Linked DNA regions of Homo sapiens. The protein of the gene in region 3 interacts with the protein of the main gene of each other region in a pairwise test. Each region holds a gene or a part of one and is shown on either strand. Other genes may lie near its edges. The genes, in order: SH2D1B, SH2D1A, MET and SH2D3C.

Evidence for each region.
Region 1: the proteins of MET (region 3) and SH2D1B interact in binary tests that used the Homo sapiens proteins (3 or more experiments, as listed by UniProt).
Region 2: the proteins of MET (region 3) and SH2D1A interact in binary tests that used the Homo sapiens proteins (3 or more experiments, as listed by UniProt).
Region 4: the proteins of MET (region 3) and SH2D3C interact in binary tests that used the Homo sapiens proteins (3 or more experiments, as listed by UniProt).

Annotation. Positions count from the first base shown.
Region 1 is NC_000001.11:162,408,568-162,417,040, forward strand, and holds the start of SH2D1B (SH2 domain-containing protein 1B), read right to left. Parts: upstream 3,570-8,473; 5' UTR 3,450-3,569; coding exon 3,316-3,449; intron 1-3,315. UniProt on the Homo sapiens protein: Cytoplasmic adapter regulating receptors of the signaling lymphocytic activation molecule (SLAM) family such as CD84, SLAMF1, LY9 and CD244. In SLAM signaling seems to cooperate with SH2D1A/SAP.
Region 2 is NC_000023.11:124,341,443-124,350,346, reverse strand, and holds the start of SH2D1A (SH2 domain-containing protein 1A), read right to left. Parts: upstream 3,785-8,904; 5' UTR 3,705-3,784; coding exon 3,568-3,704; intron 1-3,567.
Region 3 is NC_000007.14:116,695,601-116,703,886, forward strand, and holds part of MET (hepatocyte growth factor receptor isoform b preproprotein), read left to right. Parts: intron 1-149; exon of another isoform or gene 150-156; coding exon of another isoform or gene 157-199; intron 200-3,470; coding exon of another isoform or gene 3,471-3,484; coding exon 3,485-4,684; intron 4,685-8,286. UniProt on the Homo sapiens protein: Receptor tyrosine kinase that transduces signals from the extracellular matrix into the cytoplasm by binding to hepatocyte growth factor/HGF ligand. Regulates many physiological processes including proliferation, scattering, morphogenesis and survival.
Region 4 is NC_000009.12:127,747,667-127,754,666, reverse strand, and holds part of SH2D3C (SH2 domain-containing protein 3C), read left to right. Parts: intron 1-3,366; coding exon 3,367-3,495; intron 3,496-5,001; coding exon 5,002-5,456; intron 5,457-7,000. UniProt on the Homo sapiens protein: Acts as an adapter protein that mediates cell signaling pathways involved in cellular functions such as cell adhesion and migration, tissue organization, and the regulation of the immune response.

The DNA.
Region 1 (8,473 bases), on a different chromosome or scaffold from region 3:
ACACCCAGCTAATTAGTTTTGTATTTTTAGTAGAGACAGAGTTTCACCATGTTGGCCAGGATGGTCTCAATCTCTTGACCTAGTGATCTGCCCGCCTCGGCCTCCCAGAGTGCTGGGAATACAGGTGTGAGCCACCACGCCTGGCCCATTTTTTAGCATCTCTTAGTGACCTTTGCTTTAGATGAATATGCAAGATGGGCTGATGCACCACAGAACAGTTGAGAATAAATATCAATTTTCAAAGAGAATCCCAATATAGGCTGGGTGCAGTGGCTCATGCCTGTAATCCCAGCACTTTGGGAGGCTGAGGTGGGTGGATCACTGGAGCCCAGGAGCTCGAAATCAGCCTGGGCAACATAGCGAGACCCCATGTCTACAAAAAATTTAAACATTAACCAGGCATGGTAGTGCGCACCTGTAGTCCCAGATACTCAGGGGGCCTGAGACAGGAGAATCTCTTGAACCCAGAAGGTTGAGGTTGCAGTGAGCCATGATCGCACCACTGCACTCCAGCCTAGGAGCTGGAGTGAGACCCTGTCTAAAAAAAAAAAAAAGAAAGAAAGGAAGGAAGAGAATCCCATATTGACCATATACCCTGAGATCCTGGCCAAGGTCTGTCCTTGCACCTTCTTGTTTTTTCCCTTCCCACTGCTTGCCCCAGCACAACTAGCTCTTCACCGTCTCCCGTCCAGAGACACAACAGTTTCTGTTGCCATCATTTCCCAGCTTCATTGTGTTCTCCACGTCAAATTGAAGTTCCTAAATTCACCAGTCTTTTCACTTCCCTGCTCAGAAACCATCCATGTTTCCCTGTTATCTATAGAACCATTCTTTTAAAACTCCATGATCTTATCCCACCCTCCTTTTCCAAAAGCTGGTTTCCAAACTACATTTTAGGAACCTTGTATGTAAATCCTTTAAAATATCCCACTTCTAGACTCCTGTTCCTACCTCCTCCCCTTCCTAAAATGCCCTCCATCCCATTTACATGTAAGCAGATCTTTTCCACTCTTTGTTTATTTTATTTGAGATGGAGAGTCTTTCTCTGTCTCTCAGGCTGGAGTATAATGGCGCGATCTCGGCTCACTGCAACCTCTGCCTCCTGGGTTCAAGCGATTCTCATGCCTCAGCCTCCCAAGTAGCTGGGATACAACTGCACCCACCATGCCTGGCTAATTTTTGTATTTTTAGTAGATGGGGGTTTCATTATGTTGGCCAGGCTGGTCTTGAACTCCTGACCTCAGTGATCAGCCCACCTCAGCCTCCCAAATTGCTAGGATTACAGGCATGAGCCACCGCGCCTGGCCAATATATATTTTTCTTTAAATGGTACTGTTGGATGTAGATATGAGAGAAATAGCCTGTATCTCCAGTACCATTTAAAGAAAGAAATATGTCCCTGTGTATTCTATTAGTAATGACAATCACTTTTGTCTATAATCAGACTTCTGAGCCTATTCCAAGGCCCATTTGTGTACTTCCTTGTAAAATCCAGTTTTAGCAAAGAACCCTACTAAGTCAGTTTGGCAAGGACCCCTCACCCTAGCTATCTGATCACTGTTGGATTCTGATCAGATTCCTCATCCTCCACCATCCCCCAGGCAACATCTGATCACCCGGGCCTGTCTTCAGCTACAATTCTGTTAGGCTGGTTTAGCCAGAATCCACTTTACCCCTGATGTTTCCTCCGAGTAATTTTCTGTCTACCGACAGCCACACTGCTCCTTGGCCATAAATTCCCACTTGTCCATGCTGGATTCAGAGTTGAGTCCAGTCTCTTTTCTGTGCCGCAAGAGCTCATTGCAGTGGTCCCTGTACCTTTGTGATGATCCTGAATAAAGTCTTCCCAACCATAATTTAACAAGTGACATTGAGTAATTTTTTTCTTTAACAAGAGACATTTGGATTTTAATTTCTGTTACAGGTATAATAAAAGGTTCAGTGGTCCCTACTTTACAAAGAGGAACATACATAAAGATAGGAGGTTTCTAGTGATTTCTGTTCAGGATTGCTTTCTAAACTGGGCATAAACAAGTTCCTTCAGCTAGGTCTCTTTGATACTGTGGCCTGGAATTTGTTTTTCTTTTTCTTTTTTTTTTTTTTTTTGAGATGGAGTTTTGCTCTTGTTGCCCAGGCTGGAGTGCAATGGCACAATCTCAGCTCACTGCAACCTCCACCACCCGGGTTCAAGTGATTCTCCTGCCTCAGCCTCCCAAATAGCTGGGATTACAAGCATACGCCACCACACCTGGCTAATTTTGTATTTTTAGTAGAGACGGGGTTTCTTCGTGTTGGTCAGGCTGGTCTCGAACTCCCGACCTCAGGTGATTCACCTGCCTCCGCTTCCCAAAGTGCTGGGATTACAGGAGTGAGCCACTGTGCCCAGCCACTCTTTTTTCTTTTTTTTGGACAGAGTCTCACTCTATTGCCCAGGCTGGAGTGCAGTGGTGCAATCTCAGCTCACTGCAGCCTCTGCCTCCTGGGTTCAAGTGATTCTCCTGTCTCAGCCTCTCAAGTAGCCAGTATTACAGGCACACGCCACCACACCAGGTTAATTTTTGTATTTTTGGTAGAGATGGGGTTTTGCCGTGTTGGCCAGGCTGGTCTCAAACTCCTGACCTCAAGTGATTCACCTGCCTCAGCCTCCCAAAGTGTTGGGATTACAGGCATGAGCCACCATGCCCAGCCTGGAATTTCATGTTTAACTTAGACTCTGGAAATTCCAAATGAGTTTTAACACAAACAAATTATTTGAGAAATTCAGGTCTCTGTTTCTTTACCTATGAAATGGTGACTGCTTATGCTTGCCTTGATAGACTACTAGGATGAAAGGAAATGACGAATATTGAAGTCCTTCACAAATCTAACAAAATGTGAAATATGATTGTATTTATAGTTTACGTATTGCAAGCAGATGCTGCAGAATAAGTGTTTCAGATTGAAATTTCTTGAAGAACCCCTAGCCTTTTCCATACCAAATAAACAGATCTCTGGAGGACAGGACCTCTGACATTTGTACCTTCTTTCCATCCCTCTGTACCCCTGTACTTCCTGCAGCCCTTCCCTTCACCACCACCATGTCCCTCCTGCTGCTGCAGAGTCTGCTTGCAGGGCCTTTACACCAGGGAGAGCAGGCAGATGGAGGAGCATGGACAGATACATTCCTCTCCTGGCAGTGTCCATTACTTCTCATTCTACTCATTGAGACTCCAAAGTCAGAGTGAAATACTGAGGGATATGAATTCCTGTACTGTGTGGCAGCCATTGCCACATTCAACATACGATGTCAGATGTGTGCAAGATGAGGCTACTCACGAGACACAGAGGCACAGGACTCCTGGTATCGACTCGCTGTCTCTTAAAAGAAAGTTGCCATCCACCCCTTCCTTGAGCAGCAAGGTCTCACAGTCTTGCTTGGTCAGACGTCCATGGTAGTAAGGCAGATCCATGGAGAACGCTCTTGTATCCCAGGAAGCCCTGTTGGCCTGAAATTCACCCCCAAGTCAAGGGACAGCTCTGAGGAGAGATGTGTAAGCAGCTGTACCTCCTGTGGAGCTACCTCTTCCTCTAGCGGTCTGTGGGACTCAGCCAGCTTCACAAGATTCAGGAAATGAGGAGGGCGGGGTGATAAAATGACCAACACTTTTCACCCTCTAAATGGCCCACATGTGACTCACAGAAGTAGGTAAAGCACATTTAAACACACAATGGAATCAGTGATGCTCATGGCTAGGGAGGCAATGCTGAAGTCAAGCTTCCTGGAACTGTGTTGCAGCCTTGTATATTACCATGGACTATCATCAACTTCTTTGGCTACTGGTATCCTTTCCAGGAAGCACACCGCTGCTTTTGCTGTAATGGTACCCATTTTCTGCTGAAGTTGCCTAGGATTGGGCTATGCTTAGCTTAGACTGGGTGCTCAAAAACCATTTGGATGCTGAGAGAATTGATATGCTCAGATACAATGGGAAAATTGAAAGGGTGGGATTTCCGTGGATCAAATGACACTAAAAATGGAAGACATTAATGGCAATAAAAAACAGTGGGACACTGTGGATGAGGACAGCCCATTCCATGGCTAAGGCTCCCAGCCACTGGTGAAAAAAGGCCATTTGAACACCCTCAAGCATTGTTCCTTTTGGAGAAAGGGCTGGTGTAGGTGGGAGGGATATCTGGGTATACTCATATATCTACAGAAAATCACTATATATATCTCAAAAATGTTATCTATGAAAATAGAACTATGTGCTAACGATTCATCTTTACTTCTCTTAACTTCTTCTTTTTTTTGTTTTCTTCATCTCCGTAGTACCTGGAGATCTTAACTTCTTCTTAACCTAGATGTTTATTTCACCTTGCTACTTTGCTTACCAGCTGTTTACTCACAGTTGGGTGTATCTTCTATGGAACTTCCTTGTAACAGATCTTTGTTCTTCCTTGGAATTCCCACTCTGCATTTGGCATAGTGCAGTTTCACTGATCAGGGAACTCGTTATCAGACAGATATGCTCTCAAATAGCAACTTTTCTTCTGTGGTTTTGGACAATTCATTATTCAATTCTCTGGAAACTATGGCAGTTGAAGACAGAGTTGTTAATAATGAAAGAAGAAATTTGGTATTTCTTGTGAATAAATTCACAATCGTGGTGTAAAGATGCTTTTTGACATAAGAGAGGAAATAACTGAAAGCATGCTCAGGCTCTTGGTCATCACAGGGGCTTCCTTGCCCTTTTTGCTGTTTCAAAATCCAACCCTCACAATAAAAGAAATGCAAATTACCTGCATGCTGAGATAACAACTCTCACCTATCATATGGGTGAAAATCAAAAGTTTGAAAGCTTATTGGGTTGGTCATGGTGAAAGAAAATAGAATATCTTGTATATCATTAGTTGGAATAAAAAATAGTTACAACTATAGTAAAAGATGGTTTGGCAATATCTTGCAAATTTATGTATGCCTTCACCATCTGATAGAACAATCTCAGTTCTAGAAATCTGTCACAAAACTACACAGGCAGAATTAGAAAATGACTTGTGAATAAGGTAGTATTTTTTAATAGAAAAAGATTACAAACAACTCAAAGACTTGTGAATAGAGGGACAGGTGAATAAACTGTGATTCATGTATACAATGGAATATTACTATAGAATAATAAAATGGGATTGAGGAAGATCTCTATATGCTGATATGCAATAATCTTCAGGATGTATTTTTAGGTGAAAGCAGCAAGATGCACAATAGTATATAGAGTATGGGGGATATAAATAAATATATACATTTATAATATTTGCTCATATTTAAAAAACAAACGAAACACCCACTGGAAGAACAAAACTAAAACTAATTAAAACTAAAAACTTCTGCCTCTAAGAGGAGAGCGGAAACATGCATAGAGGTGAGACTTCTCTCAGTAAAACTTGCTGTAGAGTTGTTGGTTTTTTGTTTTGTTTTGTTTTGAGACAGAATCTCACTCTGTTACCCAGTCTGGAGTGCAGTGGTGTGATCTCGGCTTACTGCAACCTCTGCCTCCCTGGTTCAAGCAATTCTCCCACATCAGCCTCCCAAGTAGCTGGGACTACAGGCACGTGCCACCATGACTAGCTAATTTTTGTATTTTTAGTAGAGACAGGGTTTCACCATGTGGCCCAGGCTGGTCTCAAACTCCTCACTTCAAGTGATCTGCCTGCCTCGGCCTCCCAAAGTGCTGGGATTACAGATGTGACCCACTGCGCCCAGCCTGCTGTGGAGTTTTGAATGTAGAATCATGTAATTGTTTTTTTGTTTTGTTTTGTTTTGTTTTGAGACAGAGTCTCACTCTGTCGCTCAGGCTGGAGTGCAGTGGTGCGATCTCGGCTCACTGCAAGCTCTGCCTCCTGGGTTCATGCCATTCTCTTGCCTCAGCCTCCCGAATAGCTGGGACTACAGGCCCCTGCCACCACGCCCAGCTAATTTTTTGTATTTTTAGTAGAGACGGGGTTTCACCATGTTAGTCAGGATGGTCCCAATCTCCTGACCTCGTGATCCACCCACCTCGGCCTCCCAAAGTGCTGGGATTACAGGCGTGAGCCACAGCGCCCGGCCATAATTGTTTTACACATTGAAAATAAACAAGTAAAAGGGTATTCCTAAAAGGAGGAATAAAAACTAAAATAATGTATCTAACTGAACATTACTTTGGTAATATAATCATAAAGAAAATTATTTCAACTGACTTTAGAATGTAGAATTTGAGTGAACAGTTTTAATTAAATATCTTGTACATTAAATAAACTAGCAAATAAATTTAGTGATAATTTGGTGTAATTTAAATATATTTAACTCATATTATAAGATAAACAAAAATCATACTGATATTAACATTTTAAGAACTAAGTAAGGTAAACAACTGTACCAGTTTGCTTATGTCTGAGGGGTTTCCCAGTATCTACGACTTTCAGTGTTAAAGACAGATGAGTCCTGGGAAAATTCTAGAATCAAGATTTTTTTTCAGTATAAGAAAAGAGATACACATATAAAAGCAAAGAAGTTAAATAAAATTTTTGATGCTAAATTTGAATTGGAAATATCAGCATGGATTTACAACTTGCTTTTCAACAAAAGGCCTAAAACAGGGGCCAGCAAACTTTTTCTTAGGCATTGCAGGCAATAGTCTCTGTTGCAACCATTCATCTCTGCCATTGTAGTGTAAAAGCAGCACTATGGGCTGTAGTTTGCCAATCCCTAGCTAAAACAATGAAAACTTGGTAGCAATGAGCACACCTAGGGATAAGGCTATGGTCTCTAAATACCACTTCTCCTATAAAAGAAGCAAGAACTTTTTAGAGAAATGGCTGAATTCATGCCAGGGACATATAAGTGTGTCAGTGAAGACTGAGTCATGTCAAAGGACATAAGACCCAATATGGAAAAATTTAAGTATCAAAGGAATAATGATTGTGGTTGATCAAAATACGTTGAATTTATATTATCCAGTAAAAGATCAACCTTGCCCAAATATAGATGTAGCCCTTTGTCCTAGCTCCTTGGAGAAAAGCTTTAAGCTCTTGGAATCCAGTGTATGGGACATTCAGTAGAACAAATAATGTGGTGTCTTCATAGGTTGTAAAAACTGAGTCAGATAGTTGGGTGAGAACTGCTCTAGGTTAAAAAGATGGTTATGCAGCATGAAACCAATGCTAGATGACATCTTGTTTGGATCTTGGCTTGAAAAAACCAAATACCAAAAATTTAGTGCTGGGGGAAATTTAAGTATTGATTTGATATTAGATAGTGCGTGTAGCAATGGCATTATGCTTTTGTGAATATAACTTTTAGAGATACGTATTGAAGTGTTATGTCTGATACTGGGTGATTGTGTGTGTGGTTCATTATATTAATGTCTCTTTTTGCATGTGTTGTAAAGTTTTAATAGTAAAAATATCTTTCCATTCCCATATTATTCTGATCCCATGTCACCTTTAAGAATAGCTCCACAGTACACAGGAATATCTTCAATTTCTTGCGTGGGTCCCCTTTCTCTCATCCACAGAAACAAAAACCTAGCACTATGTTTGTAGAACATGACCCTATTCTTCTGGCCATGGGTGATTTGATCAAGGATAGGCCTCCGACCTAAGATAAGTTAATCACAAACCCTTATCCAGGAGTTTAGAGAAAATGGGGAAATGAAGGAAATGAGAGAGAAAAAGAGAGAGAGATGAAAGGAAGGAAGGAAGGAAGGAAGGAAGGAAGGAAGGAAGGAAGGAAGAAAGAGAAAGAAAGAAAGAAGAGAAAGAGAAAGAAAGAAAAAGAAAAGAAAGAGAGAAAGGGAAGGAAAGAAAGAGAGAAAGAAAGAAGAAAGAGAGAGAAAGAAAGAAAAAGAAAGAAAGAAAGAAAGAAAGAGAAAGAAAGAAAGAGGGTAGGGGGCTGGGATGGGTAGGAAATGGGAATGGAAATTAATTCTCTAGGAATGGCTGTGTAACAGGTACATTTTTACACTGTATACTGGTGGCCATATCCCAGCAAGCTGTCAGGAGAAGAGAACTGGTCTGCAAAATGAGGAATGAAGTGGACACATGAAAAAAAGCAGAGTCAAAAGATAGTCTCACTTGGATTTTCCATGGGTTTTCATTCCAGGATTCAGTGATTTCTGAGGTCTGGCTACATGCTTGCCCTTGAGTTTTTTTGTCATTTTAATAGATTTCCCTTTTGTCATAAGCTAGTTGGCATTTGTTTTTGTTATTTTCTACTAAAGATGTCAAATAAATCCAGCCTTACAGATAAAATTCTGTTCTCAAGACCAAGGAAGCATGAGGCCAAATGTGAATCACAGTGTTGTTCTGAGTGAAAAGTCACGTAGAAACTGGACAGTGTGGTGTCAACCCCAGAAAGCCCAAGATCACAAGATCATCACTGACCACAGCAGCATGGCAAATGCTTGTGTTGTGCTTGTTAAAAGATGCCTGATGGAGGGCAACAGTGTAGGACCTCCCA
Region 2 (8,904 bases), on a different chromosome or scaffold from region 3:
ATTTATATATTATATATTATATAATATTATATATAATATATATTTATATATTATATATTATATAATATTATATATAATATATATTTATATATTATATATTATATAATATTATATAATATATATTTATATATTATATATTTTATATTATATATTTATATATTATATATATTAGATATTTATATATATATAAATATATAACATTTGGTGTTTGCCCTTACTTTTTTTGACGCATACAAAAATCAAACTTTTTAGTAGTCAAATACGTCACTCGTAAGAATACAATTGTAAGAGCACACGTGCTCAAAAAGCAATTCATCTTATTAAAATATAGAAGAAAATTCACCTAATTTTTAGCAATAGTCATCTTTAGGTTATAAAACTATAGATGATTTTTCTCTAATTTCTATTATCTATATGTTTCAAATTTTCTATAATGAATAGGTATAAGGAACTATTTTTAATAGACTTATACAAAAATCTATATTTATTTAGAGAAAGTAATTGAAAGAAATACTTATTACTTAAAATGAAGGTGAGCAATCCTATAAATGGAAAACTCCTTTAGTGCTTTATGAAGCAGTTCAATTTTCGATTTTCTAAATCAGAACAGAAGAAAAGGCCATATCTGAAAGCCATGATTAGGAGGTTCAGAACTGGGGAAAAGGGCAAGCATCGTTTGAAAGTACAGTTTAAAGTACAGTTTGAAGGCATATGAAATGTATTATCTCTACAATAAAAATATAAAAACTATAGCTCAATTAAATCTTCTTGGTTAATAGGAGTAAACAAAAGATAGAATGAGAAACCATTCTGAGTAAACCCTACAATCAATGCATGTTTGTCAGCTATACCTTGTTGTCCATGTGTATATGATACCACTTATATTGTTATTTCGACTGCATATCATAAGTGTTCTGGTTTAAAATGAGTACGTGGTTTATTTCTAAATAAAATCTGATTTTATAATTACAGTGTAGCACCAAAAAGAGGGAATGAAATTTTTACATTTATCAAAAGGGACACTCAACTCAAAAACATTGAGAAACTGATAAAAGGCAATGTATCCTCATATCTTCCCTCTGCAGCACATTCTGGCTATCACCCTAACAGTCACATAAGACTTTGAGGCCCCAGTGTACCATTTGAAAGACACCGTAAGGGAACTCCCAATTTGTCTAGTATTTTCCGCTACTTCACAAGGAGGTTTTCATGGAGAACTAAGAGTCATAAAAACTGCATTTATGCAAGATTCACTTTGGGCGAAAACTTAAATGCTTGATAATTTCTCACCTGCCTAAGTTAATTCCTCATGTGGTTCCGGCCTACATAGGCAAAAGTCTAAAGCTGCCCTTCTCTCTTGCATAAGGTACTTAAGGCAATCTTTTGCAGAAGGTAGGATACACATTACTATTCCTGTTTTATAAATATGGAAACTGAGTCCCAGAGAATTTGAGTGACTTTCCCAGAGTCCATACCCTAACCTCTCAATGGCCATTCCGTTTATTGCAGTAAAGAACAGAATTTGCCTTGACAGTTTGTTAATTCAAAAATATCTGCTGAGTGCCTATTATGTGTTCCTGTGTTTCTGGTGATGGAGACAGTATCTCCGCCCTCATGGAGATTATATTTTTGCAGGACAGCCCAGCAATAAGTAGGTAAACAAGCAAATTATCAGATAGTTTAAAGCTCTTTGAAGAAAAATAAAGAGATGGAGTGAGTGTATCAGGGACAGGGAGAGGGCACTTGTTCTAGATAGGTGGTCAAGCAAGTCCTCTCTGAGGGAGGAGACAGTTGAACAAACATGTGAACTGAAGGTATTTTGGGCAGAAGGAACAATAAGCGCAGAAATCCTAAGTGGGGGCATTTTTGAGGAGCTTGAGAAACGGCCAGGAGCCCCGTGAGGCTGAAGCCTTAGGTATATCTTGCCTCTCACTATACCCTGTTGTCCCTCCCCTGCCCAGACTTGTTTTGTACATTCTTTTTCACCTTTGGGTTAAGGAGCATGTTATCTCCTTTGTCAGCTTCCCTAAAGCAGCGCCTTTCACCCACCCACTCACTCCACCTTCTTTCAATGAGAAAAGAGCCTAAGAATCCTAGCTGGTTTTCATTGCCCTTCCCTAGGTTCCACACGGGAACAATAATTATATAAGCAAAACATAAAGATTCAAGCCCAAGACATTCAATAGCTTCCACGTATTTCCCTTGAAGCCTTTGTGAAAAATGTATTTAGCATGACCTGAGAGCTGCCACAAACAAGGCTTGACCGTTTTTAAAAAACAATATACAGTGAAAAATCTTCTAGCACCAGCATCAGGATAATCTTTCTTCACTGACCCATAAGGTATTTCAAACTCTTGTGGGGTATTATCAGATGCTGAACTTACTACCAAGCATTTAACCTCATTTGGTTTCTGTCTAGAACCTACAATGCAGGGCTGCTGTTTTCATGGATTTTTTTTTTTATCCTGCTGACAATAATGCCTGAGCTAGGTCCTTCCTTAGAAATGCCCCCATGATTCCTAAAAGAAATCAACTGAAAAGAGAAGATAAAATAATAATATATCTTTGGTATAATAATAATACCAATAGCTTACATTTATTGAACATTTACTAGGTGTCAGGCCCCAGTGCTAATTTTTTTACTGCATTATGGCACTTAATCTTACAATCCTATGAGGTAGGCAGTAATATGATACCTATTCAATGGATAAGAAAACTGGGGAACTGAGAGGTTAATTTGCCCAAGTCACAAACCTAACATCTGACGAGCACAGGACAAAGTCTCAGATCTGCCTGACTCCGGAGCCCTGGAGCAAAGACGCAGATGAATTTGATTCAAAATGAAGCCTTAGAATGAGACATGCCTAGGCAAATGGCAAAGCTGAATCATAACAAGGGTGTTTTCCCTCCATTCCCTTTAAGACTATTGTGAGTCCTAACGTTTATCAAGAAGGGTCCTATTTCTGAAATCCCCTGCCCCTCCCCACCCCCCACTACTTTTCTAAAGGATGCTACATCAGCAGATCCAGAGAGGTGATTTTACTGACACACATCCCCCTCCTCTCTCAGCATCTCGACCTAACTGGCATTGCATTCTTAAAGTAATTGACTCTGTTTCTTAATGTGCCTCCTCTCTCTGAATGTCATGCTCTTCCTTTGGGATGACACTTCAAAAGTCGTTTAAAGAGAGCTAGAGTAAGGCTCGCAGGGCGCCACCCGATAGGGGTCAAAATGGAAGTGGGGAGCCTGGGTCTTTCCCGGAGCGAAGGTAAACTGTGGACCACATTTCACCACCCGAAATGGCATTCTCTGCAGCTGCCCCAAAAGGCTCTGGTGAGGGCCTTCTGGAGAGCAGGAGGCCCAGGGAATGAAATCCCCAGCGAGGGATTGAGGCGAAAGTGTGTTCCACCACGGCCCTGGGCTGGACTTGAGGGTGGGCCACGGAGGAGGCGTCGGCGAGCTGCTAACGCCGGCGCCCCTGCCTGCCTCGGCCTCCACCCTGGCCCCAGCTGCTGTTGCCCACCGCCCACACCCTCAGCAGGCCCATGTCCACCGTATCATACTCACAGCACACATAGGCAGTACACGCCTGGCACGCTCTCGCTGTCCCTCAGCAAATAGCTGCCATCCAGCCCAGTGGCAAGCAGGAGCTTCTCGCCGGTTTCCCTGCTGATTTTGCCATGATACACAGCCACTGCGTCCATGGCCTGGTGGACTCTTGGGCAGGCCGAGGAGGAGAACTGTGCAAGGGAGATGCCGCTGCTACTGCAGCCAGGCACAAGTCAACCACCTGACTCCCAGTTCAGCCAGATGTGCAAAAAAGAGAGAAGCACCCCAACAACAGGATGTTGTCTACTTGCCTTAAACCTCCTTCTCACACTTCAGTTAAAACGAGCTCAGCAATTTAGTAGCTTGGTTCGATCGAGCTTGCCAAGGGCTTCCATCTTCTGCCCCCCAACACAGGGTTCATACAGAGAGGGGAGGAACATTGGAAGAAGGATTTTGCAAGATTGGGGCTGTACTGCCAACACACACCCTTGCACTCAGACGGGGATGCTTAGTAATGCTTCTGTTCTTGCGGTTTACTCAGAGGCCACCAGGAATAACTTAGCTCAACTAGCCCATAAGGAGTTGATGATAGAGGCAAGTTGTACATGTCTCTGTTGGTATGTGGACCCACTACGTAGGGCAAAAACACACTGACAAAATGAAAGGACCAAGAGCTCTGAGAACAAAACACTGATAGTTTTATCAGTACTGTCAGTATGCAATCATTACTGAACATGGCCATGAAGACTCCTACAGAATCAGACATAGTAGATGAACAGTGAACTCTGGGCAAGTTCTTCTTCTCCCTCTTCCTTCTACCTCACGCAGTCATCTTGAGAAGTCTTGATCCTGAGCAAATATTGATTTCTTTCCTAACACCTTGTCCAAGGTCCCAAAGTGCTAGTTGAGATACAAAAGTCACAATGTACATCCAAAGATGTTCCAGATGTATCTATTTGATGGGCTTTAGATGAGACTGTGAATCATTTAACTGGTGCTTTGCCTTTATGTGGATTTGTATGTGCCCTTTGGTGTACAGGGCCCACCTTTCAGCATTTTGTCCATAAAATCTGTTTTGAATCATTTGCAAGTTGTTGATAATTTTGTTGTAACTTTTATTCTCTGTTGTTTCTAGAAAATGTTATTTCTTCGATTGAGGCTAAACTGTCTTTAATATTTTAAAACCTTTCAACCTTCATTTTCTTCTCTGAAATAAAACATTGCTTCTATTTCAAAATGTGCTAGGTAATATTTCCGCAAAGCTTCCTGCATTTTCACTAGAGTAAGACTTTATTTATTGCTGAAGCTGAATGGTCTTGTACATGTACCTTTAGATTATGTAAAGTACTTTTAAAATTTGAATTTAAATAACTGAAGCTATGTCGTCTATTATATGCTTTCTGCAACTTCAGTGTGTAGTTCTTTGAGAATATGGCAAGGCTGGGAACTCAATAGCGAGAACGACACTTAATTCCTCACATGTCTTACCAATGGATTGGATGTACAGAGCTGACTTGCACCAAAGGCAGATATTTGCTCTTCATCTACTAGGATTAAGAACAATCCTCTAAGATTTCAGTGGTAGCTGGTAGCAACTTTTCTTCTTGATTGAAGAGTGTCCAGCCTTAGTATGCAAAGTATAAACATAAGTCTCCTACTAGTCATTTTCAGCATTAAGAATTTTTTTTTAAAGCATTCAAGGTGACATTTGGGGATGGCTCTGGGGAATGGGACCAATATTATTTTATCATCTTCCTTCCTCACATGTTTTTGACCAACTCCACCTCTTACCCCTTTTCATGCTTTGGATCAAGGAAGAAATTAATCTGATATATGAATGCATACTCCAACATTAAGGATTTGAAAGGTTGTCCACCTTGGGCTCTCCATATATTGAGCAGGCAAATGGTTAGCCCAGAGGAATTAATCAAAATGGTGGAATTTCAAATAGAAAGGAGACAGGGAAAGGGATCCCTTTATATCAGTCCATATGAGCAACAGCTGACCTGTGAGGTGAACTGTGAGAACATTCAGTGTCACATAAGTGAAAACAAAACCTAACCTTTTTTTGTCTCTTAACAACTCTGAACAAATCATCCATAAACTTAGGAACAGAGCAACCTGGATCTGACAGCACAAGCGTACCATGCACTCTTTTTTTCTTTCTCTGTTTTGTTCCATGTTGCTAAAATAGCACACCTGTCAAAGCAGCCAGGTATGACGGGGTTCAGCACAACTAAAATTGCACTAAAAAACAGATAAATTATAAGGTAATAGTACAACTTTCACATCCAGTACCTCATTGTCATCTTACAAGCAAGCTGACAGCTGAGCCAGCCGAGCCAGCCCACTAGTGCAGTGTTGATGAAAAATACTGACATCTTCACTCTAATCCTACACCAGTACTAAACCTGACTTTAGCAAATTCAAAACTTCACACTGAGCTTGAAGCGTAGAGAAAAGAGGAATTGAAATGACTCTCTTCCTTCTCTCCCCATACACACGAGAGGAAATGGGAGAAAATGAAAGAGGAGAGCAATGGAGATAGTAGAGGCACCAACAGAGAAAGAGTTAGGAAGAATGGACCCCAAGTACAAGTATAAACCACTTAGGAGCAGAATTATTTAATTAATGGTTTATCGTCTGTGTCCCCCACTAGAATGTAAGGTCCATGATGGAGGGATTTTGTGTACTTTGCTCACCACTGTATCCTGTGTCTGGCAAGTAGTAGGTGCTATATATATTTGTTGTGTGAATGAATGAATGAATGAACTTAATGCTCTCAATAAAAGAAAAAATACTGAAATTCTCTTTTACACTCACGCACACACACACACACACACACACAATATTGGTTCTACATGCCTATGGTCGTCTTTGAAATGACAAGATGAATTGGAAGGAGCAGTAGTCCAGTAAGTAGGAGAGTTGAAATATATGCCATGTTTTGCCACTAAATCACTTCTCTCTGAGTCTCATTTTCTCCATCTGTCAAATGGAATTGAACCAGATGACCCCTAAGGTCACGTCTAGGTTTAACATTCTATTCTCTAAACAAAAGCCAAATGTGTTTTAGAGAGAAACAGAGGGGAAATGAATTGAACTTATTTGTGCACAAGAACAAAGACCTGTTTCCTCAATCTCCCTCAATAAAGGAAATATTTTCATTCTTGACATTTTACAATAACTTAAGGGGGAAAATCATAGAATGGAGGAAGAGAGCTTCACAGTTACAACCTTTTAGAATATAGATGCCATTTAAATCAGATTATAAAAGCATTGAAATTTTAGAAAAACTGCCAGCCAAGGTTGAAAGTATCTTCTTAACCAAACTTGTCAACTCCTGAGGTCTCTGAGAGGTGACAGAATTTTGCATGTGGAAGCCCTGTCTGAGGTGCTAATTGTCTTCATTTCAAATGCCCTAGGCTATTCTCAAACCCAGGTAGATTAAAAGAATGATGCCAAGGGTGGTCAGTTTTATAGAGTGGCTCTGACATTTCAAAATCTTTTTCTCTGACCTTTCAAAACTAACTTTGTTCTTCCACTAGCTCATTTATAGGTGTGAATTCTCCTGTGACAGTGTTATGACAGTGTTACCTGTGGTGAGTTTACACATTCTCTCAGCACTTACTAAAATTCACTTCCTTTACAAAAATGATTAAAGAAAAAAATTGTTTTTTTTACAAAAGAGCACCTCCTTTTGATAATCTCTGGGTTTACCTATGAGGCCAATCTTTCTAAATGCCCTTTTTAAGTGAGAAGCCAGAGACAGGGTTGTTGTGTGTGTTTATTTAAGCCTGTCTTAAATATTTTTATTATTTCAACCAACACTTATGAGCATCTACCATATGCCAGACATTATAGTAGGTACTTAGGTTACAGAAAAGTACAGTATCTGCCCCTAAGTAGCTCATAGGTCCAGTGAAGAAGACAGACAAGCAAACAGACAATTATAATTCACTTAACAAGAGCTGAGATAGAGGAAAGGATGGGGCTCTAGGGACATAGTAGTGGCATATCTAACTCAACTTATATTCTAACTCGCACAATCTATTCGAGATGGAAAGTGTTTTTATCTTTCTGTCTGCTGTGTACAGGTTTTTTTTTTTTTATTGCACGAATTTTGCCTCCTTCGTGACTCAAAGGAAGTTCCCTCATTCTAGCTGAAACTCTGCATGCTTCTGAGGTTTCATTCTCGGAATAATAGCAACAGCTAATATTTGTTAACTGCATACTATATTCCAGGCATCCTGCTAAGCACTTTGAATGTATTATCTCATTTATTTATATCAACAACCCTGTGAAGCAAATACTATTATTAGTCTCATTTTACCGACAAAGAAACTGAAACCCAGAGAACCTAGGTAGCCTATTCAAGGTGGCACAACTGGTCAATGTCAGGCCCAGGATATGAACACAGGCCACTGACTGCAGAGCCTGTGCACTTCACCACTATCCTCTTCTGCCTCCCAACATTAATTCTGAGGTCACTGCACTGGATTGCTCAGGCTTCAGTCTCCTATCTAGCGACTGTAATCTGGACTTCTAGAATATTCTTCTTACATTTCAAGTGTCAACTGGTCCCATGCCCTGACTCATAGCATGTCTATATATAACTATATGTCTTATCAAATCAGATATACTATTTTAGCCTCATTCTCTTTATTTACTATGTCTTGGAAGGGTCTTCAGTTCACAGTCAAGTTTTGTTTCCTGGGTTTATGGGTCTGGAAACAGGATCATAAGCTCATCCATCCAAAGTAACAGAACACTGAGTAGTTTGGGTTTGGTTGGTTTGTTTTGTTTTGTTTTTAAAGTGATACGGATATTTTCTCTCCTGGGAAGACCTGGATACACAGATAAGGTCTTATCACCCCATTCTCCTTTTTGAATGTTTTCTAGACCAAATGAAGGCCACTCCTCATTAGTTTTTATCTTTTTCCATGAAGATAGATGTGATGGTATATGCGGTGTGCCTGGAGCCTAACAAATACACAATATTATTTTCTCCTACTAGCCTGTGAACTCCCGGAAGACAGAGATGATGTCATATTCCTCTTAGCACACCCAGAACCTAAAAGAGTACCTGGCACCTAGTTAGCTCCCTTCCTTTCCCCCTCTTTTTTCCCTTTATAGAGAGAACCCTCTGCAGAGAATGTGGCTTCTAATTTGCCTCAAGAAGTATATCATTTCTGACATTGACTTCTTTCACATTCATCACTTACCAACGTCTACCCTGTGGTCTGCCTCATTTTGGTTTATAGATATAACTCTTCACATCCCACACCTTGGCACCTGACACACAAATAAATCATCATGTACTTATTTGGCCTCATCAACCAGTTGCCTTTGGAT
Region 3 (8,286 bases):
TTGGAAGCTGCTTCGGCATAGTGAAGCACTTAAGAGCATGGATGGGTTCTTGTTAGCCAGACGTGGAATTGAATCTTGGTTCTAACTGTGTGATTTTAGCAAGTTTGCTTATCTAGAAGAGAAGGATAATAATACTTCCTTCTTCACAGGGTGGTGATGAAGAGTAAATCAAAGAGTTTAGCAGAATGCTTCCCATATGGTAAGCACTCAATACATGTTCTTGTTATTTTTATTATTACATGGCTTTGCCTTACTGAGGCTTCATCTTGTCCTCTGGTCCAACTACAGTTCTCTAGCTTGGCTTATCCCTTCATAACCTGTACCCCCAGTGGCACGATCTTGGCTCACTACAACCTCCGCTTCCCAAGTTCAAGCAATTCTCCTGCCTCAGCCTCCCAAGTAGCTAGGATTACAGGCACCTGTCACCACACCCAGCTAATTTTTTTGTAGTAGAGATGGGGGTTCACAGTGTTGGTCAGCCTGGGTTCAAACTCCTGACCTCAAGTGATCTGCCCACCTCAGCCTCCCAAAGTGCTAGGATTACAGGCATGAACCACCGCGCTCAGCCAGGAATTTTCATTCTTTATCCTCCTTTGAGACTCGGCTCTAGCATCATTTCCAGTCGAGTTGGTCTCCCTTCCTCTGCATTCTGATAACTGTTAACCATCAAGTGACTTGAGCTTCCCAGGGAAGGGCATCATGTCTTTGTAGACATCCAATAAATGTTAGTAGAAGAAAGGGGGGTCCTGCCAATAATCATATGTCTTTCCCACAATTTAAACTCCTTTTCACCCTGTTACTACTTTTTGCTTGTCTTCCCTTTGATAAACATTCTACTTCTTCATCACCCATTCCCTCAATTTAACATCTGATACTACTATAGAAACTACTGCCTTGAAGATCAACAAACGGGTTCCATGTGGACCAACGTCCTCCTTGAGACCCTCACTTGGCTTTTGTGACACAGTGCAATATTTGCTCTCTTGATGCCTCACTGACCTTAACCTTCCTTGACTCCTGCATAGATTTCTCAACTGTGGGTATCCCCTAAGATTTAGGCCATTTGCCTTCTCTTCTTTCATCTAGTCCATTCATGAACACACCCATTCCTGGTTTTAACCATCACCTCTGTGCAGATAATGTGCAAAGTTTATTTCTAGTCGGAGTGGAGTCTCTGTTACTCTGCCAATCAAGTTCTAAATTTTTATTCCTTCTAGTGCAGCAGTGGCAAATACCTGACACTCATGTGTCTCACTCAAGACAGATACTGTTTCACCCAAGACTGATCATGCCGCTTTCCCAGTCAAGGCAGGCTTCTCAGAATCCTTCTCATTTCCGCCTCTGTTCTTTGGCACTAATGCTCTGTCTGCCCAGAGTTTTCATTCTTCACTTGTTCCAGGCACCTGCTTCCTGGTGAATAATGTAAAACCTGCTAGTCATCCTTATAGGAGAATATGCACTCATTTCCCAGCAGCACACCCGACTCAACGTGGTTAAAACCAATCTACCATTCCCATATATTCAGCCTAACTTCCCAGTGCAGTCTACCCTAGTTTTATAACTTGTTCTACTTTTTCCAGATAACTGCTAATCATCTTTGTTTGTCTTTGCTTTCTTTTTTGCACTGTGTTTGATATATTAGGGTATCAAATCCTACTTATTCAAATATGTCCCTTATTCATTCCTTCTATCCTTGGTGCTACCATATTTGTTCTGGCTCTTGTTACCTCATTATGGGATATAAAAATAGCCTGTCAACTGGTCTTTCCATTGCCAGGATCTCTCTGTTCTAAGCCACCCTGCCTCCAGATCAATCTTCCTAGAGTAAAACCTTCATTGTATGACGGTCTAGCTCAAAATTCCTTAATGATTATTAATCACCTCTTAAAGTCCCCAATTCTTAGACTATTAGTAGGGTAAAATTATTTTTGATTTGGAGTCAAAAAATTTTGGACGCAAATTTTGGCTACTACACTTAACCATTATGTAACTTCGAATTTCGGCTTAATTTTTATTCATCATTTATTCAGTATCTATTTGTTTAACACCTTCTGCATCTCAGGCTCTGTACTAGGTACTTGGGATACAATGATGAGCCAAGCAGACCTTGTCCTTGCTCTCCTGGACCTCACAACATGGTGAACTTGTCTCTATTGCTCATGATCATAATAATCCTAAGTACAGGCTGTGCTTTTTTCCCTTGATACTTGTAGCTTTTGGTTTGTGCTATGCAGGGTATTGTAATACCATTTGCAGTGCCACAATAATCAGCATATATGTGTTATCACTCAGCCACATTGCAGCTTCACTGAAGGGCAGGGGCTATGTCCCATTTCTCATAGCGCAAGCACAGTGCCCTGCACATACCAGCTGCTCAGTGATTTCTGATGTGGTTTTTGTAGATCCAGGGTTAGTCTTTGGCAGTCATGATGCCTAGTATGTTTTTAGAGGCTCCCTTTGTCCTATCAGAATTATGCTATTTAAAAAAAAGTCATACCTATTTAGTTTATATTCATTCTAAGGCCTCTCCTTTCCAACCTACTACCCTGCCTATAACTATTATAAGGAGAACTCACAATGTTTATAACTTGTGCACCTTAAGTTTTAAATACTGAATAACAGGCCCATTCATGTTTCCTCATAGAAATACTGTCTATATGCATACAATGAAATGTTAAAATAATGTTCTTTTTACTAAATAGCTTTTTGACTTGGTAATGAACAATATGTTGTTTTTCCCTGAGAAGTAGTTCTAGGACTTTAGTTCTGAAGATTATGTTGTATTTTATACATTTTCAGCCTCCTGTTTTTCAGTTCCCAGTGATCTTACATTAAACATTTGTCTGTCTAAAACAATAGGTTAACTATAGCCAAATTATAACCATACCATTCCTCTCCACACAAAATCCTATAAACAGCATGTGATCATATTGCTTCTAGAATTTATGATTGTTTTCTTCCAAAAGGAAGCTAAATTTAGCCTAGTAATTCTACATGCGCTCAAGAAAACAATGCCTGCTGTGATTTCTAGAATAAATGAATGTGAACCACAGTTCCTTTACTTGACTAACAGAGAAAGTTTAAATATCAACCTAGTCATTAACCACAGTTATTAAACCACGTTAAACAACCAGCAAGGGGTTAAGAAAGAAAGTTGCTATGTTTTTTCTTTCATTGCTGAATGAGTCTAACTTAGTTACTGTATCAACCTTAATACAGAACATTGTTTGCATCTCAATGGTTCTCTAAAATTATTCGTTCATGGCTTGAGTTCTAAAATTAAACTATGTGGAGTCATGTCCAACCGCACAATGCATCTTTATGTGAAACTTGCTAGAGTTTTTGTTTTCCTTCTATGTAAAAGTCCAGTTGGGAAGCTTTATTTCTGATAGATTAAATGGTATAGGTCTTTCAGTTTTCTCTTCATTTCTGACAACTGAACTGCTCTCGCCTTGAACCTGTTTTGGCAGATAAACCTCTCATAATGAAGGCCCCCGCTGTGCTTGCACCTGGCATCCTCGTGCTCCTGTTTACCTTGGTGCAGAGGAGCAATGGGGAGTGTAAAGAGGCACTAGCAAAGTCCGAGATGAATGTGAATATGAAGTATCAGCTTCCCAACTTCACCGCGGAAACACCCATCCAGAATGTCATTCTACATGAGCATCACATTTTCCTTGGTGCCACTAACTACATTTATGTTTTAAATGAGGAAGACCTTCAGAAGGTTGCTGAGTACAAGACTGGGCCTGTGCTGGAACACCCAGATTGTTTCCCATGTCAGGACTGCAGCAGCAAAGCCAATTTATCAGGAGGTGTTTGGAAAGATAACATCAACATGGCTCTAGTTGTCGACACCTACTATGATGATCAACTCATTAGCTGTGGCAGCGTCAACAGAGGGACCTGCCAGCGACATGTCTTTCCCCACAATCATACTGCTGACATACAGTCGGAGGTTCACTGCATATTCTCCCCACAGATAGAAGAGCCCAGCCAGTGTCCTGACTGTGTGGTGAGCGCCCTGGGAGCCAAAGTCCTTTCATCTGTAAAGGACCGGTTCATCAACTTCTTTGTAGGCAATACCATAAATTCTTCTTATTTCCCAGATCATCCATTGCATTCGATATCAGTGAGAAGGCTAAAGGAAACGAAAGATGGTTTTATGTTTTTGACGGACCAGTCCTACATTGATGTTTTACCTGAGTTCAGAGATTCTTACCCCATTAAGTATGTCCATGCCTTTGAAAGCAACAATTTTATTTACTTCTTGACGGTCCAAAGGGAAACTCTAGATGCTCAGACTTTTCACACAAGAATAATCAGGTTCTGTTCCATAAACTCTGGATTGCATTCCTACATGGAAATGCCTCTGGAGTGTATTCTCACAGAAAAGAGAAAAAAGAGATCCACAAAGAAGGAAGTGTTTAATATACTTCAGGCTGCGTATGTCAGCAAGCCTGGGGCCCAGCTTGCTAGACAAATAGGAGCCAGCCTGAATGATGACATTCTTTTCGGGGTGTTCGCACAAAGCAAGCCAGATTCTGCCGAACCAATGGATCGATCTGCCATGTGTGCATTCCCTATCAAATATGTCAACGACTTCTTCAACAAGATCGTCAACAAAAACAATGTGAGATGTCTCCAGCATTTTTACGGACCCAATCATGAGCACTGCTTTAATAGGGTAAGTCACATCAGTTCCCCACTTATAAACTGTGAGGTATAAATTAGAAATAAGTATCAGTCTCAAAAAGAATATCCAGGGCTTCTTTTGTGCTTTGTAAATGGTGTTTATCCAAAATAGTTGCAGATTTTTTCCAAGAAAATTGAGGAATTGAATCTTCATTTACACCTAAAATTATATCTTTAAAATGTAAATGGTAACTAAAAGAAAAATGTTTTTACAATTCAGATTTGCATGTTCGTGACATTTCAGATTATATTAAAGTTATTTCCCATATAAGCTTTTTTATATTTACACAGATTTTATCAGATTTACACAGATTTTATCAGATTTACACAGATTTTTATCACAGCAGCAATTCCCATAAAACATAATTATTGACATTTCTATATAATCTCTGCAACATTTACAAGATGTTCAAGCTAATTTGTATGCCTTAAAGAATTGTTCCTTATGAGATTATATTCTCTCACTGATACACAACTGATTAATCTATATTCTTGACATTACTTAAAGGAACTTAACTTTAAAAAACCTCTTCTGAAATGCTGGTAAATAAAACATTTTTAAATGAGCTCGTATACTTCTCTAAATAACCTGTAAGAGTAGAGAGGAAATGTTTGTTCCCAAGTCCTTCCTTTAGAGCTTGACTTTAATCATGGACTTCCTTCTGGAAAAGACTTGTGTCTACCAAGTTCTAGCTTGGCACTTTACCTGGTTGGTATTTGTTATTTATAAGCATAAATATTTTGGTTGATGATTATTTATACTTATATGAAATGGTATTTTCTTAGGAGCTGTTAGAGATATTCTTGGTGCTGTGATTTAAATATAGTAACAGCTACCAGCTATACCTGGAGATTTATCCTGCTAGTCAGTTGATCACCTGGTCTGAGTGTTTATTGTGGCTTTGAGTTTCTTGATCTGGGCCAGATTTGGAATACGGACCTGACTATGACCATCATTGAATGAACAAATAGTATAGCTTTTCTAAAGACAGTTTGACTTTGGCATGGTATGTTTCACTTACTTTAACAGGTTTCAATCTAAGATATAAAGGTTATAATTGCAATCAGGTAGAACATTAAACATGTCCTCAGTAGCATAAAGTATATAATTTGCTGAGGGGTAAAGGCATATGAATTCAGAGACATTTGGTTGACTTTTGCTGAAATGTCTGGGACACTTCTCTAGATGGAAACTATAGTTAACTTTTTATGATGCTAGGAAAATACTTCCAAGAAAGTCAGTTCATCTTTTGGTGAACTAAAAACAAAACTTCCTTCCTCTCTCTTCCAAAGTCTATGAATATACATAACATAAATGCACATACATTCCAACTAAGACTTATTTCCCCCTACATACATTTAATATATGTTGCAAAGAAGCAATAGAATTCCTTATGAAGCTCCCCCTTTTCTTTACTAGAAACTACAAAAGAATGAAAGGAAACAAAATGATTTTCAGAAACCTGGGATTAGGAAATAAAAATATAATATTAATAGCATTACAGAGAAGATATTTTTCTGCATCCAGTAAGTTGATTCTGAGACACAAGTTTTAAAAGAGTCTATTAGGAATTCCTCCAGGGCTCCTAGAGCACATGGATTTGCTATTTAAATCTTTCTTTGTTAAAAATTAAAAAGAAGGGTAGGGCAAGAAAAAAATTAAAAAGAGAATTCATAAAGGTATATTGATATCTCATTTTTTAAATTTTGTACATTTCAATCCTTAGATGTAAAAATACTTATCAATTCTAGAAATTCTCAAAACACATCTGAATTTTATCCTACCCTTTTGACTTTTTTAGTGTTCCAAGGGAGACAAACAGACAGGATTAGCCAATGAAATTCAGGTCAGTTTTATCGCCCAGGAAAAATTCCCAAAATGCACTAGCCACACCTGAAACCATTATCACTCCCATCACAAAAATTCTTGCGGGAAACAAGATGGAACTTGCCAACATAGTCTTCTTACAAAGGAAGCCAACTTTTACACTGGCCAAATTCCATAGACAAATACCTTCAAACCTCCTCTATTTATTTGCCTGTTTATCTTCTCTGGTTACAAAGATCAAAATTCTTCTGAGACTGAGACTACACATATTCTCTCTCTCCATATACCCCATCCAGACCTCAGATTGTTCCAATAATGAGCATATAATCATTTCCTAGCTTAATGCCAAAATGAAGGCACCTAGAGCCATTCATCACACACAAAAAAAACAAAATGATTACAAGATCAAAGCTGTTTAGCAGGACTCTCAAGCAATAAGATGACTCCATTTTGTCTTGGCAGATTTACTTGGCCAGAAATCAAGTGACCCTTTTAATAATTTCTTGGAACTGAGTTTTTACTTTGGCATCAAGTTTGGTGAAAAGACACACATATTGTAGTTTTGTTATTAACATCTCTAATACATTTATAAAGGGACTCTTGTGGACAAGGTTAAGAAAGCTGAGCTGCAGCAGTAACTTTCTACTTATGCTTCTGCCCAGTCCTCAGTGTTGACACATTGCTGAAAGAGGGATTTCCTGGCACTCCAAGAGCTCTCCACCATGTGCAAAAAGTGTTTCTATCACAAGATCAGATAATGGGAGTGCCAGGGACGGGCCTTTTACATTTTAGGGGTCCAGCAGGTGTACCAGGCCTGACTTGCTTGTTTAGGATCACATATTTTGTTGCTTTTCCCAGTCTCACATTTCATGAAATATGTCTATGCAAACTCTTCACATGCATCTTCTCATATTGATGACATCACAAAAGCCCTCTTTTGAGTCATTTGATAATTCCCAGTACTCGTCATCTTCACCCATAAGCTATTTGTGCTTCAGAACTCTTTGTCTCCACATATGATGCTGTTTCTGGAAACTTATCCCAAGCCACAAATGCCCACTTATAGAATACCAGTGTTGTTGACTATGTCAGTTGTTCTATAAGAATATATTCTTGATCCTCACAATGTGTCCATTTTTTATGTTGCTTTTGAAAGTGATTCTAAAGAATTTGTTTACAGTGACTTCCAATATTGAGTACTATGAGATTATACACCCACAAATAATTACTAAATCTGTTTAATATCTTTACCTCCTCCTTTACCCATTCATCAATCAACCTCTATAAGCATCCTAAATTAGTATTGATTGAAGTTGTTTTAGGCTAATGCATATTCTCTAAATAGCATATTATTATTCAAAATAAAATAATTGAGAAAATTGTCCCATAATATGGATGGAACCTTTGTAAAGGCCCATATGTAGGGAGAAAAAACCCTCATCTCTATTTGAGGATAAGCAGTAGCAAAAATTTCATTAACTTGTTTAAAATTAAGTGGAATTTAATTTTAAGACTGTGGAATCTCTAACAGTCTTTTACATATAAGGGATTGATTAATGTGACAATTTCAGGAAAAAAAGGAGAATCAGTACACATTGGCCCAATCTCCTACAAATGAGAATCAATACAGAATAAGAGAATTTTTTAAATCCCCAAATCAGCAAAGATCCTGTTCCCTAAGTTATAGAATATTTATTAAAACAAGTGAAATCGTACATTTTAGAAAAAATTTTAATCAAAGTTGAAATTAGAAAAGCATTCTTGAA
Region 4 (7,000 bases), on a different chromosome or scaffold from region 3:
GAGTGAGGAGCAGGAAACGCGGGGGATGCTTCGGATGCCAGGGTTGGGGCCAGAGCGCCCGCCACCCTCCCGCCCTCTAGGTGGGCTTGGACATGCCTGGGGCGCGGGTCTCTCCCAGCCCAGCTGGCCGGGCAGTGCAGGACGGCGCCGCGGCGGTGAGAGGGTTAAACGGAAGGGGGTGGAGGGGAGGACCCGGACCCCGCCTCTCTGCGGAGCATCCTTTGGGGATGGCTTTGCTTGGGGTTGGGACGCCGAGGGGAGCTGGAGGGGATGCTGGGCTCGGGCTGGCGGGAAGGGGTTAAGACCCTGTCCGGGGGTCTCCGCGCTCCTGCCCCCTGAGCCCCCTGGGAGATGCCAGGCGCGTCGGCTCTTCGCTCCCCCAGGCTCACACACGCTCGCGGAGCCCGCCTGAAGGACTGCCCCGCCGGCGGCGGAGCGCAGCATCCCCGCACCGGCCAATCAGGCGCGCGCAGGCCGGGAGGCGGTGAGATCATCTCTGGCCAATAGCAGGGCGCCGAGCGCAGGGATGCTGCATTCGCACCCCAGCACCCCCAACTCTAGGGAACTGGGGGCTCCCAGGTCGAGGTGAGATCAAGGCACAGGGACCCTAGGATTCCTCACCCTCAGGTGTGTGGGAGGACCAAGTTGGTCCCCCCAAACTCTCCGTGACCAGTGATTAAGCTGGAAAAGGGGAGCCCAGTCTCCCAGCCCCTTTAACGGATGAGGCTGCCCAGGCCCAGAGAGGGGAAGTGACTGGCTCAAGGTCACACAGTGGCAGCCTTGGGGCGGTTCTTCAACATCCAGCCTCCTCCCTCCTTTGCCCACGTCCCTCTAGCTCCAGCTGTGGAACTGGGGGAAGGTCTCAATCGCATGCCCTTTGTCAAGGAGGACGCCAGAAGGCTGAGGTCTTGGTTCCCTTTTTCCCTGTGACGCCCACTCTCCCCTTTCCAGGGTTTGGTGTGATATGAGGAAAGAGGACTAGCCTGGTGTGAGCACCGCAGAGTGAGAGGGAGAGAGACCAGGGACCCCCAGAAGTAGGGGACCCCTTGGAGAAGTGTAGGTGTCTGAGAAGGCCCAGATCCTAGCCCAGCCCTGGGCCTCTCTGCCCTTCGGGGGCATCGGTTTCTACCACGGCCGGAGGATGTGCAGAATTCCCACTCCCAGGCCCCGCCTTTCTCCTGAGCACCTGTGCAAACCGCCCACTCCCACCATCTGTCCCCAGAGCCCTGCAGGCTCCTCAAGGTCCAAATTTTCATGGGTCCACCACCAAGCTGCTCCTGCCCCAGCCTTGCCCACTCAGAGCATGTCCCAATCATCCTTCTAGGATCTCGGCCAGGAGTCCTCTCTGACCCCTCCGCCCTGCTCCCCCACATGAATCAATGGCCATCTAAACTCCCTTTCCCCCACTCCTTCTGCCCACGCCTTATCTGCCCTGCCACTGCCTGGAAAACCCTAGGCTGCTCTCCATAAGTGGACTAAACCTGCCCCAACACTTCCAAACCCCTCCATGGCTCTGCTGTGGCCTCCAGATAAACCCCAGCTCCCTGAGGCAGCCGTGCCACACCTGCCCCTGCCCCCACAGCCCCTTGGAAGCTTCTTATTCATCTCCCCTCCCTCCCCTTGGCTCTGCCCGTAGGACCCTGACTTTGCCGCTCTCTCCCCAGAAGCTCTTCCCTGTCCACCTGTCCACCTGCCCTCTCCACCCTGGTGCTTTTGCTTGGCTCACCCAGTCCTTCAGACCTCAGCAGAAACACCACCTTTTCAGGGAAGTGATTCCTGACTCTGCCCCCTGACTAGTTTGGTGGTGCACCATCTCTGTGCATCTCGGGACATTCAGGAAACCTGGAATTGATTGTCAGTGTCTGCAAGGCCTCCCCCAGGGCAGAGGCCACCTTGGGTCCTCAGCCCTGGCACAGGACCAGGATAGGGACCTAGTCAATGTTGAATGGAATCAGAGATTCTAGATATCTCTGACACTGGGAATCATGGTGTCTTGGGAGCAATGCAGACTAGGCTAAACCCAGGCAGTATGGGAGCAGAGGGGTGAGGGATGTAGCCACAGAATTAGGAGGCGAGATCTGTGGATAGTCTGAGGAGGCAGGGAGTGGACTGGAGGACCTTCGGACTCTCAGGAGCGAGGGGCCCCAGGGAGAGACTCACCTGGGATGAAGGCCCTTTACTGCCCTCCCTCATCTGTCCTGCCTTCTGGCCAGCGCTGGGGTCTGTCTGTCTTGGAGTAGCCATCTTTGGGGCCTGGAGGTGGGGGAAGGAGAGGAAGAACCATCCCATGTCCTCGCAGTGATGAGGATGTCCATGTGCTAGTAGTACTCTGGAGTGCTGTCTCTTTTCATCTTCGCAGTGAGGTGAGGCAGGTTCTGTCACTGTACCCATTTTAATGAGGAAGAAATTGAGGCCCAGAGAGCTCACAAGGCACAGCCAGGATTGGGCTGGGCTCTGGTGGGCGTACACCTGGCATTAAGGGCTTCCTTTCCTCTTCCCTTAGGGCCCCTGGGATCCATCAGCCTCCAACTTCAGGCCACAGTAATCAAGAAACCAGGAGTTTCTGGGCCAGGTGGGAGGGTGGAGTACTGGACATTATCTCCCTCAGTGGCCTTGGGCTTCCCTGCTGGGCCATGGTCTCCCCATCTGGGTGAGGATTGCTGAGGATTTCAAGGGAGAAATGGCCTTGGAAATTGTAAGGGGCAATGCAGATGTCTGTTTGGGGTCCCCGTGTCCCTGTTTATAGTCCCTTCCCCACCCTTGCATTGTAGAATGCACCATCCCAGAACGTATCCTTGTCCAACCAGTTCTGTGGTTTTGTTCATAGCTTTTCCTGCAGTTACCTGCTGCCTTACCTCCAAGATTCACCTGTAGAAATCCCCCTCCAACACTTCAAGAACAGTTTGGTGCCCTTGGTATATAATGAGTGTTTTCTTACTGCCATCTCCTCCAGGAAGGCTTCCGAGACCCCTCTGTCGTGCCCAGGCTTAATCCCGCTTGTAAAAGCCACCCGGCTCTTTGCCGCTGTCCAGCGCTGTGGTGCTGACCGCACTCTACTCAGAGGCTCCTGTTGCTTTTGCCTCTCCTCAGACTAGGCACTGCCTTGAGGGCCGGGCTTGGTTTATATATCACTGCATCCACCCCTGGCATATAGCACAGGGCCTGGAATGCAGCTGGCATTGTTTTGTGGAAGGAATTGAGATTTCTTTACTCTTTCTGGGACCCATGGGAAAGGGTCTGGCACCTGTGCCTTAGTGTTCCCAGAGTCCCAGGATAGGAGGAGTTCATCCATGGTAGAATGAAGTTGGGAGGGAAAGAAGAAGGAGACTTTAAGTTGGATGCCAACTCTTGCTGTTTTCTACCCAGTTCTCCAAGGAGAAGTACATCCTGGACTCATCGCCAGAGAAACTCCACAAGGAATTGGAGGAGGAGCTCAAACTCAGCAGCACGGATCTCCGCAGCCATGCCTGGTACCATGGCCGCATCCCCCGAGAGGTGAGTAGGCCCCGAGCTGGACTTCAACCCGGGACCCTCCCACCCACTGCCTTGGCCAGCCCCAGCCCTGGCTGCAGCCACCTGGGAGGCTCTGACCTGTTGCTTGGTGGATTCAATCAGAATGGACTGGGATGAGGTCTAGCTCTGCCCTTTACTGACTGTGTGACCTTGAACAAGTTGCTTCACCTCTCCGAGCCTCAGTATCTACTGCAAAGGGGTGTTGTGAAAATTAAACGAAATAATGCAGGTAAAATGTTTAACATGATGCTTGACACCATGAATGTTGGCCTTTGTTCTTATTATTATGCTGTTATTGTTACTGGTCTACATATCTGCCTTTTGTATGTTTGCTTAGTGAGTACCAATCTTTGGGCTACTTAGTTTTGGCAAAGTTGAGTTTCTTGGCTGAGGTGACTTTATAAGCCACAGAATTAAGTTGATAGATCACTTGTTCCTTCTTTCATTTATGCTATGATCTTTGCCAAACACCAACTCTGCCAGGACCTGTGCTAAGCACCAAGGGTGCAGAGGTAGAAAAGGTGGTGGCTTCTCTTGATGGCTAATGGCCCAGGGTGGGGGACTGACAGGCAGGATGACAGTCAGAGCCTAGTGGAAGAAGTACAAGAATAGAGTGCCTGGTAAGAATATGGGCGAGTCCCGAGGAGGGGACACTGAGGATGGAAGCCTTTGTGAGGTGGATAGGAGTTCACCAGGTGGGGCCAGGTGCGATGGCTCATGCCTGTAATCTCACCACTTTGGGAGGCTGAGGTGGGCAGATCACCTGAGGTCAGGAGTTTCAGACCAGCCTGGCCCACATGGTGAAACCTCGTCTCTACTAAAAATACGAAAATTAGCCAGGCATGGTGGCATGCACCTGTAATGCCAGCTACTCAGGAGGCTGAGGCAGGAGAATCACTTGAACCAAGGAGGCGGAGGTTGCAGTGAGTGTGCCACCTCACTCCAGCCTGGGTGACAGTGAGACTCCATCTTAATAATAATAATAATAATAATAACAATAATAATAATAATAAAGAAGTTCATCAGATGGACAAGGCAGGAAGGGTGTTCCAGGACAAAAAAGCAGCTTGAGGGTGCAAGGGCCAGAGGCATGCCAGAGCACTGGGTGGTTGGAAGAATGAGGATTAGGAATTCACTCTGCCCAACCGGAACCCTGAGAAGGGATGGGTCTGAGACCTGGGTCTCAGGTCACAGCCATTCTCACTCCTCCAGACCCTGGGCCTCTGTGCCTCCCATTCCAAGGTGTTGGGTCCTCCCATTCCTGAGCCTCTGTGCTGCAGACTCAGGGCCTCTGGCTGAGGTGCCCCCTGTGAACCTGGGTCATTGCATCCCCGCTCTCAGATGTCAGATGTCTCTGTTCATTGGGTCCTCTATGCCCTGGGTCTGGTCTTGCTGTGCCCCCTAATCCTGGGTTGCTCTGTCCCCCAGATCCTGGGTCTGACCCTCTCCTGGCCCCACCCTACTCCAGCCTAACCATGCCTTCTGCAGGTCTCGGAGACCTTGGTACAACGCAACGGCGACTTCCTCATCCGGGACTCACTCACCAGCCTGGGCGACTATGTGCTCACGTGCCGCTGGCGCAACCAGGCCTTGCACTTCAAGATCAACAAGGTGGTGGTGAAGGCAGGCGAGAGCTACACACACATCCAGTACCTGTTTGAGCAGGAGAGCTTTGACCACGTGCCCGCCCTCGTGCGCTATCATGTGGGCAGCCGCAAGGCTGTGTCAGAGCAGAGTGGTGCCATCATCTACTGCCCGGTGAACCGCACCTTCCCACTGCGCTACCTCGAGGCCAGCTATGGCCTGGGACAGGGGAGTAGCAAGCCTGCTAGCCCCGTCAGCCCCTCAGGCCCCAAGGGCAGCCACATGAAGCGGCGCAGCGTCACCATGACCGATGGGCTCACTGCTGACAAGGTCACCCGCAGCGATGGCTGCCCCACCAGGTCAGCCAGGGCCCCATTTGTCAAATGGGGTTGTGGGTAATGAGAGGGCTAGTGAGAAAGAGAAGGCCTAGGTACACTGAAATGGGATGAAATTACTCTCCTGGAGCCTCTGTGTGCAGGGAGGAATGGGAGGAAGGTTGGGCCATACTCTGTGGATGTACAGAACACAGGGCTTGCAGGGAGTCAGACCCAGGTTGCAGTCCCAGCTCTGCCACTCGCTGGCCATGTGCCCTTGACCCTGTCACCTCTCCTCTGTTATCCCCATGTTCCTACCTATAAAGGCTTTCATTCAAGCAGCCCTCCCTACCCCAGGGGAGCCCTGAGTCCTGAACCGGAGAGGGGCCTGGTCCCCGCCACCTGATGCCACCCCTCCTCATCCTACCCAGCTAGGCCAAGGTGGGCATCTGAGCAGAGGGCTTTACAGCATGCAAATCACTGCACAGGGAATGGGATGTTCTCAGCAAATTTTAATCACACCTGGTTGTCTCCGGGGCTAAAATCAGGCCCCAGATGCTGGGAAAAGCCACAGCAGCTGACGGTTCCTGAGATCCTACTAAGTGTTAAGTGCTGTATGTGCCCAATCTCATCAACGCCCATTTCCTCCTGGGAGGTGGGTCCTGCCCATACACCCAATTTGTAGATGAGGACATAGGCTTAGAGGGGGGAAGCCGCTTGCTAGAGAGTGGTAGGATCAAGATTCAAACCCAGGTCCGTAGACTCTGAAGTCTGTGCCCCAAGTTTCTGTGGTTTCCCTGGCTGTTTGCAAAGAGATCTGCTGTCCTGTGCCACCTGCACTTGGATAGGCCCTTGAGGCTCTGTCTCCCTGGGGCTGGGTTGGGTGCTCCCAGTCAAGGAATTGATGAATGGATACCCTGTGGGCTGCAGCCACTTGGCCTGTGGTTGGGAACCAGTAAACATAATGGTGTCAGGATCCACGGACCATGTGTGCCTGAGGCATCCTGAGCATAGTTGGGAGCAGTGAGGAGAGGTTGGGATGGTGGGCCCACTCCTTAAGGCTCACTACTCTTCCTGCTAGCCCCTCTCCCCAGACCATTCTCCAGGTTGGAGGAAAGATTCTGCTTATCAAGCTGAGGGCACTAGTGAGGGGCCGTGTCTGCCCAGAGAATGGTTGTAGTTGACTAATTTGCACAAAGGCACCTCATGGGGTAGTTGAATTCTGGCCTATACCCCCTTTCCCATCCTCTCCTCCTTGGGAAAGGAGAGGGACAGAGGAGCTTGAGAAGTGTTGGCTCAGCTGGGTGCCCCCAAGCCTCATCCTCAGGCTGCTCTAAGCTTTGTGGGAGGGGAAGCTGGATAGGAAAGGAGGAGAGCAGGGTCATGTGGAAGATACCGACTAGGAACCGGGCTAATGGCCAAGCGTGGTGGCTCGTGCCTGTAATCCCAGCACTTTGCGAGGATGAGGTGGGTGAATCACCTGAGGTCAGAAGTTTGAGACAAGCCTGGCCAACATGGTGAAACCCCATCTCTACTAAAAATACAAAAAATTAGCCACGCTTGGTAACGGGCACCTGTAATCCCAGCTA